Linked DNA regions of Homo sapiens. The protein of the gene in region 1 purifies or fractionates together with the protein of each later gene. This does not show direct contact. Each region holds a gene or a part of one and is shown in the gene's direction. Other genes may lie near its edges.

Region 1 (3,753 bases):
TCCTGACCTCAGGTGATCTGCCTGGCTCGGCCTCCCAAAGTGCTAGGATTACAGGCGTGAGCCACCATGCCTGGCCTTTATTAGTATTTTTTAAGAGAGGTTCCTTCACCCAGGCTGGCTGGAGTGCAGTGGCGCTATCATACCTCACTGCACCCTCCAACTTCTGGGCTCAAGTGATTCTCTTGAATGGGAGGATGAGCATGCCACCACGCCCAGCTAATGTTTTTATCTTCTGTCGAGATGGGGTCTCATAATGTTGCCCAGGCTGCTTTCAAACACCTGGCCTCAAGCGATCCTCCCACCTTAGCCTTCCAAAGGGTTGGGATCACAGGCATGTGCCACTGCGACCAGCCAGGATAATAATCTTTCATGTGATTTTCCGACTTTAAGCCCCCTGCACCCAGAGACCTTTCTGTCTCATGCCTGAAGGGAAGGAACTGGCCACGGAAAAACCTGGGAAATTCCTGGGGGAACTCCCTGAGGCAAGACTGCGCCTGGCAATTTGTAAGAAGGGGGCTGGTGCGACCTGAGCAGAGAGCTAATGGGAGGGTGAGGGAAGCCAAGGGAGATGGGGTGGGAGGTGGGAGGAGTCTTGCGGGACAATGGGAACCCAGGGGAGGCGTTAGAGCAGGGGAGGTGCATCGCGCACTGGGATTTAGGTCCCAGCAAGGTCGCTGGGGGGATGCCTTTTAGGGAATGGACTCTGTGGTCAACTACTCCTACCTGAACTGCCCCCAAAGCATTTGCTTTTCCCTCTCCACAGTCAGGACCAGTGTAACCTTAGACCCCTAATACTGCCATTTTTACTGTTGAGAACACCGAGAAGTAGTAAATGCAGAAAATCTAAAGTATAGTGCCTAAGACAAATTGGCGCCTCAAACCTAATTTCTAAATAAAATTAATAAATAATATTGCAGAAGTGGGGAGCAGGTCAGCAATCCAGGAAGAGGCACTGGCAGGAGCAAGAGACGGAATTTGAGCCTACTCGCGGTTATGAGCCTACTCGCGGTTACATTTTGGCCAAACTCAATTCCTGGTCTCTCTGAGCCTCGGTTTCCCTACCTGGACTGCGCGGTGTGTGTTAATTTCTCTGCCCCATTTATCTCCCCTCTCCTAGCCCCGCCCCAGCGTCACCAGTGGGACGCAGAGACTCAGGACTAGGAAAGCACTTTTAAAGCGTTAAGGGATTGCGAAGAGCTACGGAGAGGCTTCCTCAGGGCTATACTGGGTCCACCTCCCCTCATGGACCGCGGGCGCGCTCTGGCGGCCGGGCCGCTCCAGGCTGAAGCCGCCGGACCACGTGTGTAGTCGCAGCTGCCATCTTTCATCCGGGCATCGGCCATCTTGGTAAAGGCAATGTTCTAGATTTTCGCCTCTGCCCGCCCCTCCTGGTTCATCAACATATTAAATGAGCGTAGGGAATGAGGGCGTATTAAGTGTCCTCTTTTTGAAGAGACAAAGAAGTGGCTGACTACCCTGGCTTGGGTCCGAGGCCCAGCCATCTTTTTCTTTACCAAAATGGCGGCGGTACTGAGGCGCAATGAGTGCGCGCCGCCAGGAGCTCAGCGCGCAGGCCCCATGATGACGTCACGGAGGCGCGACCGGGCCGGCGCTGGGGTAAGAAGGTAGGAGCGTCTGCGGCGCGGGCGGAACCCGGGTTCGGGGAGCAGAGGCGCGGGGCGGGGGCTGCTTGGCCTGGGACCATCCCCTGGGAAGGCTGGAGGAGGGGTGCTGGGAGGCAGGAGCACTTCTGGCGTCCAGTCTGAACCGCACCTAGTTGGGGGCGATGCCCATTTCCAGACTAGACGATTGAAGCCCGACGCGACAGCATGTTCGAGGCCACCTGGCCCCGGACTGCCCCTAGGCAGCTTCTGGTCTCGAGAGGGACAGAGTTGGGCGCGGACTCCCCCGGCCTCTTGTAGGGGGATTAGTGGTGGGGGACTTCAAAAGGGATAGCCGGGAGGGCTGCTTAGAGGAGGCATTGTTGAATTTTGTATTCTGTTATTTTACCTTCACATCCGTGGGGTCTTAATCCCCATGGGTCTTGATTCGCTTCTAAGTGTGCCCCTCGCCCAGCCTGAGCCACTCCCTGGGTACCGCCTGGGCTCCCAGCTCCTGCCATCTGGGGAGTCCACCTCCTCACTAACCCCAGAGGGCTTGTGTGACCCATAGATTGGGCTTCCCGGCTCTAACGCCCTCCACACCTTCCCATCTCCCTGGAATACAAATCGCCCCCTTTTCCAGCCTACCTCCTGCATCCCGCGTGCAGGCTGCGCTCTCCCCCACTCATTCAGACTTTTCCTTAGATGTCTCCTTTAGGAAGCCCTTTGACCCAGGCTGGGTCAGAAGCCCTCTCCGGGCTTCCCCGGCGCCCTGCGTGTCCTTATTAGGACTCTGATTGCATGTGTTGGCTCTTCTCTGGGAGTCCCATGCAGGCAGAAAGCTCATTTGTGCCACCTCTTTCCCCAGCATCGCACACGTATTAGGTGCCCAGTACATATTTATTGAATGACGTGTGCAAGTGAGTGAGTGTTTACTACACAGAGAAAAGTGTCTGTATTTCCAGCTTGGGCTGTCATAACTAATACCACAGACTGGGTGGCTTAAACAGCAGAAATTGCCAGGCACTGTGGCTCACACCTGTAATCCAGGCACTTTGAGAGGCCGAGGCAAGCGGATCACTTGAGGTCAAGAGTTTGAGACCAGCCTGGCCAACATAGTGAAACCCCGTCTCTACTAAAAATACAAAAATCAGATAGGCATGGTGGCACATGCCAACATGGTGAAACCCCATCTCTATAAAAATACAAAAATTAGCCGGGCGTGGTGGCAGGTGCCTGTAATCCTAGCTGCTTGGGAGGCTGAAACAGGAGAATTGCTTGAACCGGGTGGGTGGAGGTTGCAGTGAGCCGAGATTGTGCCACTGCATTCCAGCCTGGGTGAAAGAGCAAAACTCCGTCTCAAAACAAAAAAAAGCCCCAACGTGGAAACAGCCCAAATGTCTAGCTGTGGACAATGGATAAACAAAATGTGGCGTATCCATGCAGTGGAGGAATATTCAGCCATAAAAAGGAACGAAGGGCCAGGCGCAGTGGCTCAGGCCTGTAATCCCAGCACTTTGGAAGGCCGAGGCGGGAGGATCACTTGAGCCCAGGAGTTCAAGGCCAGCCTGGGCAACATAGTCAGACCCTGCCTTAAAAAAAAAAAAAAAAAGCTAGGCATGGTGGCCTGCACCTATAGTCCCAGCTACTTAGGAGGCTCAGGTGGGAGGATCACTTGAGCCCAGGAGGTCAAGGCTGCAGTAAGCCGAGATTTCGCCACTGCACTCCAGCCTGGGCGACAGAGTGAGACCCTGTCTCCAAAATAAATAAATAAATGTACTCTCACACTGTGTGGCCTTTTGTGTCTGGCTTCTTTCACTTAGTATTGTGTTGTTGAGGTTCAACCACATTGTATCATGTATGTATTGGTGCCTTGTTTCCTTGTTTCCTTTTTTTTTTTTTCTTTTAAGAGACAGGGTCTTGTTCTGTTGCCCAGGCTGGAGTGCAGTGGCACAATCATAGCTCACTGTGGCCTCAGCCTCCTACGCTCAGGCGATCCTTCCACCTCAGCCTCCTAAGTAGCTGGAACTACAGGCACAAGCCACTGTGCCTAATTATTTTTTATTTTGTAGAGACGGACTCTTGCTATGTTGCCCAGGCTGGTCTTGAACTCCTGGCCTCAAGCAATCCTCCTGCCTCAGCCTCCCAAAGC
Region 2 (3,653 bases), on another chromosome or scaffold:
GAATAAGCAGTCCCTGCCTCTAAGGAGTTTATAGACTACTGAAAGGAAGGAATTCTATAGGCTAGTCCTTACAGAGTGTGATGTGGGAACATAGAAGAAGGCATCCAACAAAAACAGGTTTGGAGACAGATTCCAGGAAGAAGTAATGTCTAAGCCAAGACCTGTAGAATGGGGGAAAAGAATTCCAGAGAGAAGAAAAAGCGTGTGCAAAGGCCAGGAGTGAAACATCGTATGCAGTCTAGGAGCCCTAAGTGATTTGTTGTGTGTAGAACATAGTGTTGGAGGGAGGGAGTCTCAATGAGGCCAGCAAAGTAAAGAGGGATTAAATCTTAAAGGGACCCCTATATAAGGAAAGTGAACTTTATCCCAAGGGTAGTACAAAGTCATTAAAGAATTTTAATCTGGGAAGGACAGGATCTAGTCTATACATTACAAGGAAATCACTTGGCTGCATTATGGTAAGTGAGTGAAATTAGGATCAAAGAGACCTGCGAGAGTGCTGTTACAGAAGACACGTGAGACATGACAGCTTGAACTAAGGTAGTGGCTGGGAAAATGGAGAGAGATGGGTAGATTTTAAAGTTATTTAGAAAACTGAGGTAAAGGGGCATGGTAATTGATTGGATGTGGGAAGCAAGGGAAAGGGAGGAAATTACTATTTTAAACTTGGCAATAGCAAGAGGGGAGCAGATAATGAACTAAATATATTGAATTTGAAGTGCTTATGGAATAGCTTATGGAATAGCTAAGTGAATATATCGAGTAGCTGAACAAATAAATTCAGAGCTTAAGAGATTGGCCTACACATGATATATAACTTCAGATTCTGATATTCACAGATAGGTGTGTCATGTGGTACATTATCTGAGAGTAGTGTATTAGGTGGGAAATAAAAAAGTACAACTGTAGCAACTTCTTCACTGAGCTTATGATAAAATAAGGGCTCATTCTTTAGAAAAAAATCAAAGACTATATACAAATGAGTAATATAATTTGATTTTACATTTTTAATAGAAAAATATAAAACACTGCATTTACTGCTTTTGGAATTTGAGTCAACAGTATCACCAAAATTACAAAGCACAGACAGATTTACAGGTGAAATTGGTTAAATCTTCAAAGAAGAGATCATTTTCAATGCTATTTAAACTCTTTTCAGGCAATGTATAGATAACATAAAGGAAACTTTTAAATTTATTCTCCAAAACCAACATAATACACCAAAACCTGACAATAGCAAGTTCAACAGAAAAAAAAAAATTACAGATCAATATGCCTTATGGTGAAACACCTTTGTAAAATGTTCAGTACAATATTAAAATAATGATATAGCATTGACAAGTAGGGTTTATTTAACTAAGACTATTTCAAGGTTAATAAGTTGGTTACTTTAATTAACCACATTAATGTGTCAAAGAGTAATATATAATCCTCTCAATGGATGCCAAAAAAATTTTGATAAAACTCAGCAATCATTACTGATAAAAACTTGGAAAAAAACCAAAATCATGGTTATATATTTATACATTATACTCATTCCCATTAATATCAGAAATAAGGACGCCCACCAACACCACTTTTATTTAACCTTGTTCTAGAAGTACCCACCAATTAAAAACAAATTAGACAAGAGAAAACAGTACGAAGTTGGAAATAAGAGGAGATAAAATGGTTACTAACTGCAAATGGTATGATTGTATCCCTTTAAAACCCTAAAGAAAAACTACTAGAAACAAGAGAATTCATCAAGGTAACTGATTATGAAATTAATATACAAAATCAATAACTTTTCCATATTGCCCAGAGTTATGTAGGTAACAACCAGAATAATTAAAAATAAAAAGCTAAAAATTATTGTATCTGGGAAGGGGACCTGAAGGTGGAGAAGGGGCAAGGCAGAGGTTGTTGCTTTTATACTTCTGTACTATTTGATTTTTTGCTGTATGTGTGTATCACTTTGACAAAACTTACGAAGCTTCATAACATTGGTCATTTTATAGAAAAATAGAAAATCCTATTCTGAGAAAATATACTAGAAAAAAGTCAGTAGTTTTCTTATTTACAAATAATAACTAGAATATAGAAGATCCCAATTTAAATTGTAGACAGGGATAGGCTATATGAAAATAAACTTAGAAAGAAATGCGTAGGACCACGTGAGGAAAAGTCTACTAAAGAATAGAGCAGAAAACATTGTAAATATATTTAAATGTAATGTGGTCTCACTCAAAACCTACCAGCGTTTGGCCAGGCACAGTGGCTCACGCCTGTAATCCCAGCACTTTGGGAGGCCGAGGTGGGCGGATCATGAGGTCAGGAGATAGAAACCATTCTGGCTAACGCGGTGAAACCCCGTCTCTACTAAAAATACAAAAAAAAAAATTAGCCGGGCCTGGTGGCGTGCGCCTGTAGTCCCCGCTACTCCGGAGGCTGAGTCAGGAGAATGGCATGAACCCGGGAGGCGGAGCTTGCAGTGAGCAGAGATCCACGCCACTGCACTCCAGCCTAGGCGACAGAGTGAGACCCCAACTCGAAAAAAAAAAAAACCTACCAGCGTTCATTTTGGACCTTGATACACGTTTATTGAAGTTTATCTGGAAAAAAACCCTCAAGAATAGCCAAGAAAACTGAAAAGGAAGAGTTGGGAGAGCAAGGGTGTGCTGCTTTACTAGAGAACAAAACATACTGTAAAACTGAACTTGTCAGACAAGTTACTGGGCCAGGAATAGTCAGAGGAGCGAATAGAGAATCCAGGCGTAGATGCTAATCCACATAGGACCATAGTATATAGCAACAGTGAGATTTCAGATCAGTGGGTGAGAGGATGGATTATTCAATAATGATGTAGAAACAGTTTACATCCACATTTGGGTGGGGGCTATATATATATATTTGTTGATGTGTATGACATCTATTTAGAATGCTTCCTTATTCCTTACACCAAAGTGAATTTCAGATGGATCAAAGATTTGAACATAAAAATTTGAAACAGTATAAATATTAGGAAACATGGAAGAGTTTTTCTTTTTAAAAATCTTAGCATGGGGAAAGCATTTTAACTTAAAACCTAGGTTAAAAGATTAATACATTTGACAACATAAAACCTACTGCACAGCAAAAAATCTGTAAATTAAGACAATAAAAAAGTGGGAAGAAATTATTTTCAACATAGAACTATAAAGGAACTGTTTTCAGTACTACCTTTAAAGCTCTTTTGTACACATCTGCTGCACACAGCAGCACATGCCTGTAGTCCCAGCTACTCGGGAGGCTAAGGTGGGAGGACTGCTAGAGCCCAAGAGTTTGAGAGTTAAGCCACACAGCAAGATCCTAACTCTTAAAAAAGAGAAAATTTAAAAAGCTCTTATGCATCAGTTAAAAAGACAACCCAGTAGAAGAAATGCAAACGATTAAGGGAAAAAAAGAAAAAATATTCAACTTTATTCATGCAAGATAAAATATTTTCACCTTTTAGATTGGCAAAAACTACAAAATTTGATAATAGCTGGTATTAGTGAGGGTATGAGAAAACAAGCCCCCTCCAAGACAGTTGGTAGGAGTATAAATTGGTTCAGAAATCAGTTTGGAAGTATTTATCAAAATTAAAAGTGTACATGTTCTTTGACTTAGCAGTTCCACTTCTAGAAATAATT

Evidence for each region. Proteins that work in one complex are often made in the same cells at the same time.
Region 2: the proteins of CCDC124 (region 1) and PRKRA purify together in Homo sapiens (affinity purification with western blotting; one study listed by BioGRID). This does not show direct contact.

Annotation. Positions count from the first base shown.
Region 1 is NC_000019.10:17,931,424-17,935,176, forward strand, and holds the start of CCDC124 (coiled-coil domain-containing protein 124), read left to right. Parts: upstream 1-1,591; 5' UTR 1,592-1,625; intron 1,626-3,672; exon of another isoform or gene 3,673-3,753. UniProt on the Homo sapiens protein: Ribosome-binding protein involved in ribosome hibernation: associates with translationally inactive ribosomes and stabilizes the nonrotated conformation of the 80S ribosome, thereby promoting ribosome preservation and storage.
Region 2 is NC_000002.12:178,437,575-178,441,227, reverse strand, and holds part of PRKRA (interferon-inducible double-stranded RNA-dependent protein kinase activator A), read left to right. Parts: intron 1-984; exon of another isoform or gene 985-2,361; intron 2,362-3,653. UniProt on the Homo sapiens protein: Activates EIF2AK2/PKR in the absence of double-stranded RNA (dsRNA), leading to phosphorylation of EIF2S1/EFI2-alpha and inhibition of translation and induction of apoptosis.